2 linked regions of the Homo sapiens genome follow. The protein of the gene in region 1 interacts with the protein of each later gene in a pairwise test. Each region holds a gene or a part of one and is shown in the gene's direction. Other genes may lie near its edges.

The links.
Region 2: the proteins of DMC1 (region 1) and PSMA3 interact in binary tests that used the Homo sapiens proteins (3 or more experiments, as listed by UniProt).

Annotation. Positions count from the first base shown.
Region 1 is NC_000022.11:38,518,430-38,525,193, reverse strand, and holds the end of DMC1 (meiotic recombination protein DMC1/LIM15 homolog), read left to right. Parts: intron 1-3,469; coding exon 3,470-3,586; intron 3,587-5,104; coding exon 5,105-5,174; 3' UTR 5,175-6,246; downstream 6,247-6,764. UniProt on the Homo sapiens protein: Participates in meiotic recombination, specifically in homologous strand assimilation, which is required for the resolution of meiotic double-strand breaks.
Region 2 is NC_000014.9:58,261,818-58,268,845, forward strand, and holds part of PSMA3 (proteasome subunit alpha type-3), read left to right. Parts: intron 1-1,887; coding exon 1,888-1,953; intron 1,954-3,547; exon of another isoform or gene 3,548-5,576; intron 5,577-5,656; coding exon 5,657-5,703; intron 5,704-7,028. UniProt on the Homo sapiens protein: Component of the 20S core proteasome complex involved in the proteolytic degradation of most intracellular proteins. This complex plays numerous essential roles within the cell by associating with different regulatory particles.

The DNA of each region.
Region 1 (6,764 bases):
ATAGGCACTTTTCCAGGCGCTGGAGTTTCAAAGATGAACAGATATTTAGAGTATAGTTGGGGAATAAGACCCATACATTTAAAATTACCATGTAGTGTGCTTAATTAATTAATTAATTTATTTATTTATTTTGAGACGTAGTCTGGCTCTTGTTGCCCAGGCTGGAGTGCAATGGTGCGATCTCAGCTCACCACAACCTCTGCCTCCCAGGTTCAAGCGATTCTCCTGCCTCCGCCTCCTGAGTAGCTGGGATTACGGGCATGTGCCACCACACCCGGCTAATTTTGTATTTTTAGTAGAGACGGGGTTTCTCCATGTTGGTCAGGCTGATCTTGAACCCCTGACCTCAGGTGATCCGCCCGCCTCGGCCTCCCAAAGTGCTACTGCGCCCACCTGTAGTGTGCTTTAATAAAAGAATACAGACTGTTGGAAAGCACAGAGGGGGCCAGTTTTCTACTGTTTCAGGGAACCAGGCAAGGGTTCCTAGAAGGGAGGACACTTGAAGGCTGTGTAGGAGCTGAATGAGCAGACACGGTGGGGAAAGGAGCTTTCATTTCAGAGGGAGTAATGTGTGCAAAGTCATCAAGGATAAGAAGACTTTCTGAAATCAGAAAAAAGGAAGTTTTAGAGGGAAGGAGAAAACATGAGTACAACTGTAGTTAAGTATATAGGTGGTGGACAGAAAGAAGAAGTTGAGGAAGTGTCCTCCTGAGAGCCCTTATTTTCTTTTTTATTTATTAGTTTTATTTTATTTTATTTTGTTTTATTTTATTTTTTTGAGACGGAATCTCGCTCTGTCGCCTGGGCTGGAGGGCCACCGGTGGCGCGATCAGCTCACTGCAACCTCTGCCTCCTGGGTTCAAGTGATTCTTCTGCCTCAGCTTCCTGAGTAGCTGGGACTGCAGGTGCACGCCACCACACCCAGCTAATTTTTGTATTTTTAGTAGAGACAAGGTTTCACCATATTGGCCAGGCTGGTCTCAAACTCCTGACCTTGCAATCTGCCTGCCTCAGCCTCCCAAAGTGCTGGGATTACAGGCATGAGCCACTGTGCCCGGCCAAGCCCTTATTTTCTTTATAAAGTAGCAGGCAATGTCATCCAAGGTGAGGGGATAAGAATGGAAAAGGGGGCTTAAGGAGACTACTGAAGGTGAGGCAGTAAAGCCAACCATGCTCACACAGGAGAATGAGCAGCATTGAGAGACTAGCTGGGAGAAGCAGTAGCATTGTGTTCAGACTTCTCTCTGCCCATTTAGCTAACCTTGACTATCCGTTCTTAGCTCCTTTTGATAGAAATTTCCAACTGGTCTCAATTTTATTTTTTCTTAACTTCTGTGAAAACACCAATCTTTTTGCAGTCCAATATTCCCCTTGGAATTGTTGTAGCATAAATATCTTAAGCTGAAAAAACTATTTTTTTTTTTCTGAGACAGAGTCCCACTCTGTCACCCAGGCTAGAGTACAGTGGCGCAATCTCAGCTCACTGCAGCCTCCGCCTTCCGAGTTCAAGCGATTCTCCTGCCTCAGCCTCCCACGTAGCTGAAAAAACAATTTTGAACACCCACTGTGTGCCTGGTTGTGCAGAACTAAACACAATATAGTCTGCCCTTAAGGAGCTTAGTGATAGAGAATAAGAGAGGAATTGAGAAGGAATACAATAAGTAAATAAATAATAGTACTAAAGGCAGAACATGAAAAGTACATTACAGAAGCATAAATACAGTGTTTGCAGGCTCGGAGTTCATAGCTCAGTTGAGAATATCCTCAGGGTCTCAAGCAGCCCATCTATATAGAACATAAGATTATTTTAAAACCATGAAGAACCACCTGTAAGGTAGGGTGACCTGAAAAGTTAAGTGGCATCGATCTGTAAGCATTATAGAGACAACTCACTTATCTAGCTATTTTATCCAACTGAGAAGGCTTTATTGCTTTACTACCATGTCAGGTGCCTGGCAAAGCAACCCAGCTTTCTGACTTCTTAACTGCCGCCGTTAGTCTCAACTGTCTGGCTACTACTTTCTTGATAGTGGTTCACTCCAAAACTAACTCTTTGTCCTTGTTCCTATGTTGGACCTGCTGCATTTGCATTTAAAACATTTTTTTAAAAATGTTTTTAAGAGGGCCTCACTATGGTGCCCAGGCTAGCCTCTGAATTCCTGGGCTCAAGTGGTCCTCCTGCTTCAGCCTCTCAAGTAGCTGGGACTACAGATATGTGCCATAGTGTCCAGTTTCTACTGAATCTTAATCCTATTCAGCACCAACCAGGGGTCTTCTGGTCCTAACCTCTGAGCCATTTAATCAAGTAGCAGTTTATCTCAGCAAACTCCTTTACCAAAGAGCTTCTTATCCCGACCAACCTACAGTCTAAATATATTTAACCTCATGCCAATCAGCTACATCCTTGCTATACCAAGCCTGAAGCTTAGAGTAAAACCAGAATCATGAACACTTTAATGGAGCAAGCACAACTTGAATTGACTTGTAACTATATTCTTTCAGAACTGAAGCTATTATTCTATATCATAGTTTATTTTGATCAAGTATAACCTTTAGTTTGTGCTGTTCCCTTATTGATGATTTCTAAGCCCACATTTTCTTTTTTTCTTTCTGTTTTTGTTTGTTTGTTTTTTGAGAAGGAGTCTTATTCTGTTGCCCAGGCTGGAATGCAGTGGCTGATCTCAGCTAACTGCAGCCTCCACCTCTTGGGTTCAAACAATTCTCTTGCCTCAGCCTCCAGAGTAGCTGGGATTACAAGCATCAGGCACACGCCACCACACCTGGCTAATTTTTGTATTTTTAGTAGAGATGGGTTTTTGCCATGTTGGCCAGGCTAGTCTCGAACTTCTGACCTCAGTGATCCACCCACCTCGACCTCCCAAAGTGCTGGGATTACAGGCACGAGCCACCGAGCCCAGCCAGTAATCTCATTTTTTAAAGTCAGGCTGGGCACAGTGGCTCGTGCTTGTAACCCCAGCACTTTGGGAGGCCCAGGCGGGCAGATCATGAGGTCAGGAGTTCGAGACCAGCCTGGCCAACACAGTGAAACCTCATCTCTACTAAAAATACAAAAAATTAGCTGGGCGTGGTGGTGGGCACCTGTAATCCCAGCTACCTGGGAGGCTGAGACAGGAGAATCGCTTGAACCCAGGAGGCAGAGGTTGCAGTGAGTGAGATCACACCACTGCACTCCAGCCTGGGCGACACAGCTAGACTCCATCTCAAAAAAAAAAAGTCAAACAAAATATAAACTATTTATCATAGGAATCTCAAAAGCCTAGACTAGATGGGGTATATAGCAGCTCCAAAACTCACCTCACTCCTTAGTTTATGAACAAGCCTCTGCTTGTTTAGAATATACACTTATTCCAACTCCTGACATCCACCACAGAAAGATTGCCTTGTAATTGCAGATATTGCCATATATAGTCCATATGATGAAACCTGAAAGAGTATTTTATTAATTCAGCTTTCAGGCAGATCCCAAAAAACCCATTGGGGGACACATTCTGGCTCATGCTTCAACAACAAGAATAAGCTTGCGAAAGGGAAGAGGAGAGCTCAGAATTGCCAAGATTTATGACAGGTAAATTTTTTTTTATTTTGTGTGTGTGTGTGTGTGTGTGTGTGTGTGTGTGTGTGTGTGTGTGTGTGTAGAGACGGGGTTTTGCCATGTTGCCCGAGCTGGTCTCAAACTCCTAGGCTCAAGCAATCCTCCCACCTTGGGCTCCCAAAGTGCTGGGACTATAGGTGTGAGCCACCACAAGGCTGTAATTATTACTGCCAGATGCTGTGTGTTTGAATTTCTTTCTAAAAAATTATTCAATTTATTGGGAAGTCCCTACTGTTACTAGGTACTAGGGATTGAGGGATTCTATTGACACATAGACTTGGTCCCTGACCTTTCAAAGCATACACCTAGATAATGAAATCATCAATTCCAATTAAATTGTGTTAAATACAAGGTAAGTATCAAGTATGGGAACATATCCTCCTTTCTTTTTGCCAGGTTAACTCTATTTGTTTTTCAGGTTTCAGTTTAAACATCACTTTCTCAGGGAACCTTTCCCTAACCCTTACAGTCTAGGCTACTCAGTATATTATACCCTATATTCTTTCTCAGCACTTTACGTGTTTAATTAAGAATTACAGATTTTGGCCCGGCACAGTGGCTCACACCTGTAATCCTAGCACTTTTGGGAGGCCGAGGTGGGCGGATCACCTGAGGCCAGAAGTTTGAGACTAGCCGAGATCGCGCCACTGCACTCCAGCCCGGGCGACAGAGTGAGACTCCGTCTCAAAAAAAAAAAACAAAAACAAAAAACAAAAAAGAATTGGATAACCTGGGAGGATGTGCTAGACAACCTATGTTTCCATGGAAGGTACTCAGTAATCTTTTAATTTATTTCAAAGTATTTTACAGTTTGCTCCTACATTAGTCTAGTCATAAGAAAGGTGCATACCCCTATAGAATCAGATAAACCTCTAAGGGGCTGCTATACAATGCCTGACACTATACTAAAAGAACATCCAGTTGGCCAGGCGCAGTGGCTCACGCCTGTAATCCCAGTACTTTGGGAGGCCGAGGCAGGCGGATCACCTGAGGTCAGGAGTTCAAGACCAGCCTGGCCAACATGGTGAAACCCCGTCTCTACTAAAAATACAAAAATTAGCCGGGCGTGGTGGCAGGCACCTGTAATCCCAGCTACTCAGGAGGCTGAGGCAGGAGAATGGCTTGAACCCAGGAGGCAGAGGTTGCAGTGAGACGAGATCTCACCATTGCCTGGGGGACAAGAGCAAGACTTCGCCAAAAAAAAAAAATTAAAATAAATAAATGAAAGAACATCCAGTTATCCTTTCACCTGTTTCCAAGTTTGGAGTAATTTTTCTTGACATTCAGAACTTTATATATAGAAGTTGCTCAATAAATGTTTGTGAGGGTTAATAATACTTGTGGGTAAGTTCTGTAGGCCACATTTGGTTGTACCAACTCTGAGATGTCTCTGGAGATTCAGACTGATGGGCACATAATGCCTGTGACATGAATATAGTATTTATAGAAATAGAGCTTTTTATAAACTTCTGTTCCCTTGTATTCTGTTAGTCCTGAGATGCCTGAAAATGAAGCCACCTTCGCAATAACTGCTGGAGGAATTGGGGATGCCAAGGAGTAGGTGGTGAATTGATGCAAATTGCTTCTTAGTGCTTATTAGGAGCTGAAGAAATGGAAAAGCAGTCTCCAATTTCACATCTTGAAATAGAGGTTTTTTCCCACATGTTACTAAAGAAAAGTCAGCAAAGAGATTTAAATCTTATATTTATCTTAAAAGTCCCTGATTTATGATAACTATACATTGTATGTAAATTCAGGGATATGTATATGTATGTTTGTGTGTGTGTGTGTTTGTGTGTGTATACCTGACATATATAGTAGATATATATACCTATTGAAATTCTCTCACTCTGTGTATGTATATATACCTATGGAAAACTAGTTGTTGGGAAAGGAGTACGTGATTCCCTCCCTTTCACTTTTCAAAGTGAGCCACTAAACAGAAAGTCTAAGAGTTCAGAAATGTCCCATTCTCCTAAGGACTTTCCCTTCACCATTTTTCTAGGGTATAGTGCCACTGACTTACATAGCTAGATGTTTTTCCACAAGAGGATTTAAGGGAGGAATGTTTATAGGACACACACACAAAAGCTCTTTCTATTTATAATATCAAACTGCATATTCACCTTTATAGCAACAGAAAACAGACATTAAATTAAGCCAAATTTTAAATCATTTGACTTTGACAAGCAGAAATTACTTTTAAAAAATGTATTTATGGCTGGGCGTGGTGGCTCACACCTGTAATCCCAGCACTTTGGGAGGCCGAGGCAGGTGGATCACTTGAGGTCAGGAGTTCAAGACCAGCCTGGCCAACATGGAGAAACCCCATCTCTACTAAAAATACAAAAATTAGCCAAGTGCAGTGGCATGTGCTTGTAATCCCAGCTACTCTGGAGGCTGAGGCAGGAGAATTGCTTGAACCCAGGAGGCAGAGATTGCGGTGAGCCAAGATGGCACCACTGCACTCCAGCCTAGGTGACAGAGTGAGACTCCGTCTCAAAAAAAAAAAAAAAACTTTTTTAAAATGTTAAAATTAATTTAAATGTAAAATTTCTGAATACTAATCTTAGAAATGTGTAAAAGATATTATTTTGATTGTTAAACAAATAAAATCCTGTTTTCAAAATGCATGTATGGTGAAAATATGTAAAAATTAATATACTAATGACAATATACAATGAAGAGCTTTATAGACTTCAATCTTTATAGACTTTAATGTTACATCAACTTACATGAAAATTCCAGGGCTGGGCGTGGTGGCTCACACCTATAATCCCAGCTCTTTGGGAGGCCAAGGCGAGTGAATTGCTTGAGCCCAGGAGTTTGAAGACCAGCCTGGGCAATATGGCAAAACCCCGTCTCTACAAAAATACAAAAAAATTAGCCAGGCGTGCTGGTGTGTGCCTGAGGTCCCAGCTACTCAGGAAGCTGAAGTGGGAGGATTGCTGGAGCCCAGGAGGTGGAGGTTGCATTGAGCCAAGATAGAGCCACTGCACTCCAGCCTGGGTCACAGAGTGAGACTCTGTCTCAAAAAAAAAAAGAAGGAAAGAGAAGAAAATTCAAGTATTCGAAGTACCATTTGTTACAAAAGGTATTTGATTATTCATGAAATTATTCACTCACTAATTATTATTAATGCTAAGCGCTA
Region 2 (7,028 bases), on another chromosome or scaffold:
GTTCCCAGGGCTGGTCTCAAACTCCTGGCCTTAAGCAGTCCTCCTGCCTTGGACTCCCAAAATGCTGGGACTACAGGCGTGAGCATCGATGTCCAGCCATGTCATCCCTTTTATTTTATTTATTTATAAGATGGAGTGTCACTCTGTCTCCCAGGCTGGAGTGCAGTGGCTCGATCTTGGTTCACTGCAACCTCTTCCGCCTCCTAGGTTCAAGCAATTCTCCTGTCTCAGCCTCCTGATTAGCTGGGATTACAGGCATGTACTACCATGCCTGGTTAATTTTTGTATTTTTAGTACAGATGGGGTTTTGCCATGTTGGCCAGCTGGTCTCCAACTCCTGACCTCAGGTGGTCTGCCCACCCCGGCCTGCCAAAGTGCAAGGATTACAGGCGTGAGCCACAGTGCCGGACCTAATTTTGTTTCAGACAGCGTCTCGCTCTGTCACCCAGACTGGAGTGCAGTGGCGCCAAACCTCCACCTCCCCAGTTCAAGCAATTCTGCCTCAGCCTCCCGAGTAGGCTGGGATTAGAAGCATGCATCACCACACCCGGCTAATTTTTGTATTTTCAGTAGAGACGAGGTTTCACCATGTTAGCCAGGCTGGTCTCGAACTCCTGATCTCAAGTAATCCGCCCACCTTGGTCTCCCAAAATGCTGGGATTATAGGTGTGAGCCACCTTGCCCTGCCTTCCCTTTTAAAGAGAAGGTTTAAATGTGATTTCTAAGAGCTTTCCCTAAATTATTACCATTTTTTTTTTTTTTTGAGACAGAGTCTTGCTCAGTTGCCCAGGCTGGACTGCAGTGGTGCAATCTTGGCTCACTGTAACCTCTGCCTCCCGGATTCAAGGGATTCTTGTGCCTCAGCCTCTCAAGTAGCTGGGATTACAGGCCTGTACCATCACACCTGGCTAATTTTTGTATTTTTAGTAGAGACAGACTTTCACCATGTTGCCCAGGCTGGTCTGGAACTCCTGGCCTCAAGTGATCCACGTGCCTCAGATTCCCAAAGTGCTGGGATTACAAGCACTTTGTGTGAGCCACTGCACCCGGCCTGTTACCGTTTCTTAACTGTTTTCTTATCCTTACATTTTTGTCGTTTTTACTAATTGAAGAAAATGAAGATTCTTAAATATATTTTGCTGTAACAGAAGTATATATGTGTACATCCTTTTTTTTTTTTTTTTTGATGGAGTCTCACTCTGTTGCCCAGGCTGGAGTGCAGTGGCGCGGTCTCAGCTCACTGCAACCTCTGCCTCCCAGATTCAAGCGATTCTCCTGCCTCAGCCTCTGGAGTAGCTGGCATTACAGGCACCTGCCACCACACCTAGCTAATTTTTTTGTATTTTTAGTAGAGACAGGGTTTTACAATGTTGGCCAGGCCGGTCTCCAACTCCTGACCTGAGGTGATCTGCCCACCTTGGCCTTCCATAGTGCTGGGATTACAGGCATGACCCACCACACCCAGCTGTGCATCCTTATCTTTAAAAAAATTTACAAAATAATAAAATTGGGGGTTTAGAGTACTGAACTCATAGGAATTAACTTTATTTCTGTCTCTCAGGAATATATAATTTCATTTTTCATTGTCATAGTGCTAAAATCTTTTCCGTTCCTGTTCCCCAAAATGTCTTAAAGTGTATATGATTACATAATTTACATATTTTTGGATATACCTTTATTAAAAATACAGGTTGTTTTGGAATTGTTTGGTATTTTAGTATTTTTGAGCCCTTTGGCATTCATCAGAATGTGTTTGACTATATTTTTCTATACTTGCTTTTAAAAGTCATTTAGCATCCTTTCACTAGGTTATAGAAACATTAGTAGTCATTAATTACATATGATAGTGTACTAATTCAGTGATTATATATATTTTTTTCTAAATAGGGTTATTGGGGCTGTGCCATCGGCAAAGCCAGGCAAGCTGCAAAGACGGAAATAGAGAAGCTTCAGGTAATAATTAATGCTTGAATTTTTACTATGTCGTCATCCTAATGCAGTGAAATTTTATCACCACAGACATTTCAGTCTAAGGCAGGGATGTCCAATCATTTGGCTTCCCTGGGCCACACATAAAATACACCAACACTAATGATAGCTGATGAGCTTAAAAAAAAATCTCATCATGTGTTAAGAAAGTTTACGAATTTGTGTTTGGCCCCATGTGGCCTGTGGCTGGGGAAGCTCGGTGTAAGGATATAGTGTGGTTTGATGTTGAGAGTTTATGAAGCTGCTAAGTCACTGAATGGGAAAGCTGGTAACATATTATCTGTAGAGTTGTGTTATACATCCCTTTATAGATTCTGAATAACTGCTATAAAGCCTCAATCTAGAAAAACACAACTTTTGATATGATTTCACAAAATCCTTGAAACCTATTTATGAATCTCTGTGAGCTCTAGTTTGAAAATTTTGTTTAAAATTTTGAGTTAATAAAAAGTTATATTTTTCCTATATTCTTTCTTTGGAACACAGCTTTTATGTCTGGCTGTGCTCCACCGGTTCTCTTAGCTTTGCTCCTAGCCAGGTAAGGCATAAAGCCTACACTCTTACGACTACCCACTTTTTCTTTCACAAAATTCAGCTATTAGTGTGAAAAAGTTTTCTTAAAAACTTGGTTTTCCTTTTAGCCATGCGTTGATCAACTTAAAGACTTCATGGATACTGTTTCAATATTATTGATTACCTGTCAGAAACTTGCCTAAAAAGCAGGCATACCATTTATCAGTGTTTTGGTAAACTGAAGTGAGATACAATTTCACATACATTTAATGTTAATGCTGTACTAGAACCCTGCTCAACTAATTACTCATTCAACTTATTTAAGACCAGCTTCTAGAAAATACTTATTAGTGCTTGGCATTTATACAATGCTAAGTTCTAGAACCCCCTATAAAACCTAATTTGTTTCGTATTTTAGTAAAGCTGACAAAAGGATCTTAGAGGTCATTTAGCCCAAGCTCAACTGCAGATTAAACACACTGCATAGGACCACAGAATCAGCTGGTTCTGAACAGTATCCAGACCTTATGAGTCTTAGACCTATGTTCTTTTCCATTGCACACTTACTAGTATGATGCTAGGTTCCTATCTTCTACTCTTTTCCTTTTGTTTTCATCTCTCCATACTATTATATGGAAATTTGAAAATTAGAATATTTATGTCAGTTGAGGGGGATTACCCCTGTAATCCTACCAGTTTGGTAGGCCAAGTTGGGAGGACTGCTTGAGCCCAGTAGTTCCAAGACCAGGCTGGGCAAAAGAGTAAGACCCTATCTCCCAAAACAAAATGTTAGCGAGGTGAGGTGGTGCGTGCCTGTAGTCCCAGCTACTTGGGAGGCTGAGGCAGGAGGACTGTTTGAGCCCCAGCCAGGAGTTGGGGGCTACAGTGAGCTATGATCACGCCACTGCACTCCAGCCAGGGCAACAGAGCGACACCTTATCTCAAAAAAATAAAGGAAATTAGAATATTTAGAGCAGTTACTATCTGTCTTTCTGTAGTTAAATCCTAGCAAGGAATGGGAAAAACAATAAATCCCAGAGAAAAATCAAGAAAAAAAAATCACTTTAATTGAGGAACACTTTCAGTTTGTGACAAAATTATGCTGTGAATCAGGTGTTGCAAATTATGGCCCACTGCCTGCTTTTGTGTAAGTTTTATTGGAACACAGCTACATTCAGTCCATGGCTGCTTTTAGAATACAACAGTAGACTTTAACATTTGGAACAGGGAACAGAAACCAGAGCCATACAGCTAATAAACTTGAAAATATTTACAAGTTGATGCTTTACAAAATCCATCTGCTGACCCCTGCTCTGTACCATTGTTCTCTTCTGATGGTCTGTTTACTAAAAAATAAAAACTTCACAAACATGTAAAAAATAGATTTGCCATTTAAAATGTGCTTTTCAAGTTTGACTTTTTAGGATGCAATTAATTCACTAAATACAGAACTTAACTAAGGACAAAAATTTAAAGATCAGCATTCTTTCCCTTCCCATCACGCTCAACTTAACATGAAGAACTGTAAACATCCTAAGCTTACAACAAACCTATCTAGTTAGACTTCAGTTAACCACTTACACATCCCCCTCCCCCATGAACTATTTGGAAAAAGCTGCAGGCGTAATATTGGATCCCTAAATACTTTATTCTCCTTATACCATTATCAGACCCAAGTATCATCTAATAGTCCATAATCAAACTGCCTAAGCAGTTTCTACACTGTCTTTTTAACTATTTCAAACTATCAAGGTTCGCATTTTCTTCCTTAGAACTTTTAGTCTTTTTCTTCCCCAAAATATTTGAGTCCATGCCAGTTGCCTTTAGTTGTACCCAAATAATGGTTTGTCTATTTCCTAAAAGTAGTACTCTTAAATTTAAATTTAGTGTTATTTTTGTTGTCATTGTTCCTTCTTCCTCATGTGGTTGTGCAGGCAGAGCTTGAGCATCCAGATTTCAAAATTAAAAAATAAAAGATAATCTAGTTTAATATATAGTAGTTGAATCACCTTAAGTCTAGACTGCTGTATGAGCACCCATTATCTTTCACTATATTCCATCATCCCCCAACATATCCACAGTAGATGAAGGGCAGTTTGCTCAAACATTGTTTTGATCCTGTCATGTCTGTTCAGAAATGCCTGTCTATTCAGAAACCCACGTCTAATAACAAAATCTTGGACTGGTTACTATCAAAACCCAACAACATACAGACTCCTCAGCTAGGCCCTAGGGATATTTTTCTACCTTGATTTCCAAATGTTCATTGAAAGAATGCTTAATTCTAATTTGGAAAAAAGTTTTTGGCTTCCCACTTCTGCTTTACACGTTCATCTTTCTTGAAATCAAATCCAATCCAATCTATATTCTAAGAACCTGCTCAAATCTTGGTTCTTCAAAGCTTTCCCTGGTATTTTGCATTTTTGCTTTGAATAGTTCCACGAAGGATAACTTCTTACTCCTTCCTTCATCTTTCTGTATCTTGCATATAGTAAATATTAATGACTTGTTTGCATTTTGTTATCCTAACTTGGCTATAAAGAAAATCAGATGTCTTCACCAGTCGTTCAAACTTCAGGTCTGCCTACAGATTCATAGATGGCTGTGGATTTTTATAATTTTGTCACAAAGTTAGTGGTAACTACAGGTTATCTCAGAATATCTTTTTTGGCGTATAAATTTTTTTCTTTTCCTTTTTTAGACAGTCTCTCTCTCTGTCGCCCAGGCTAGAGTGCAGTGGCGTGATCCCGGCTCACTACAACCTCTGCCTCCTGGGTTCAAGAGATTCTTAGGCCTCAGCCTCCCGAGTAGCTAGGGTTACAGGCGCGCACCACCTCCATGCCCAGCTCTTTTGTATTTTTAAGTAGAGACAGGGTTTCACCATGTTGGTCAGGCTGGTCTCGAACTTCTGACTTCAGGCAATCCGGCCGCCTCGGCCTCCCAAAGTGCTGGGATTACAGGCACAAGCCACTGCACCCAGCCTGGAGTATAAATTTCAAAACATTAAAATATGAATCAGGAAACTTCGATTCTGGTCTTTTTCAGACTTTAGGTTATTTTCCTTGGTTTTATATCTGAGTATAAAAGTGAAAATAGTTATTACACAAGTGGAAAATGTTCTTCTGATGAACAGTATACATTTTATTTTCTATAGATGAAAGAAATGACCTGCCGTGATATCGTTAAAGAAGTTGCAAAAATGTAAGTTGAAATTTTTCTTACCATCCACAAAAATATTTCATTTGACCTTTGCATATATATATTACATTAATCCTAAGAAGCTGTTTTCCTGTAAAATAACTTAGTGTATAATTTTTAGAAGGTAAATTTAACATTCTAAGAAGCCTCACGAAGGAAGAAAATGTTTTTAAGCAATATTTTTTAGTAGTAATGAATAGGATGGGAAAAATAGCTTGACAAAATAAACTCCTGTTACAGGTTAAGGACATATACCATTAGGGTCTTAATTTGTTAGCTCCCAACTTCTCAAATCTCTTAAGTCCTAATAATAGTAATCTTAAGATTGCCTCTATTGTAAGAATGCTTACAAACTTTATAGGTTACAACTAATTATTTCAATACATGATCCATGAAGCTGGCTCATTTATATAATCTGCTATTTATTTGGGAAAGATATGTTTCACTTTTTCAGGTTTATTATAAAAGTTCCTATAACAAGGTAAGAAGAGCAGTATTACAAAACATTTCAACAACCAGCTTAAGAAACCCTGAATAGTTTATTACAGGTATATAAAGTAGAATACTATTAATATGTAACAGGTATTTGGACAGTAAACAATAAAAAAGTCAATTAACCTGGGTAGTGATGTTTCTAAAATTTTGTGATTCTCTAGATCAAAGAGTGTAGACATTTGGTATTACAAAAAGATTCCAACAAAATACGTTGTGTAGCCAGCTTTTTAGATTCAAAAGTTATGGATAATCGTAATTCATAACAACTCTAAGTATTCCACATTAGAACTACATAAACAAGGTCTAGTCAATCACCTGTCTGTATGGTAGTGTATCAGGTTTTACATCTAACAATACGTGGAAGAAAAAAATTCCAATGGGCTCTATTGTTTAATAAACATACTATTTACATCACACTCAGAGTCTCTTATTAACCGGTCCATCATTACTGCTACTGCCTTTACCCCTCTTGCCACCTCCTCCCCTCCGCCCTCCTAGTTTCAGTTGTGAAGCAAGCAGAAGCCATTCTATGATTGTCAGTTAATAATGGCAACACTAGGAACCAACATGCAGCAGAGCTGCTAAGAAAGGAAGTCAGATATCTTCCTTGAATTGTATAGTATGTTATCATGATATACTCTGTTTCCTTCACCGAACCAATCCTTTGAAGTCCTTCTGGAAATCAGTTCTTACCATCTTTTATATTTAGGTATAATGGTAGTCATCTGTTAAGTGTTCCATGTTAGGAAAGCCATCCCTTCATCATTTAAGAAAATGGAGCAGCATGTTATCTTTTACTTAGTTGTAGAAAATCAAGATCCTCTCATATTATA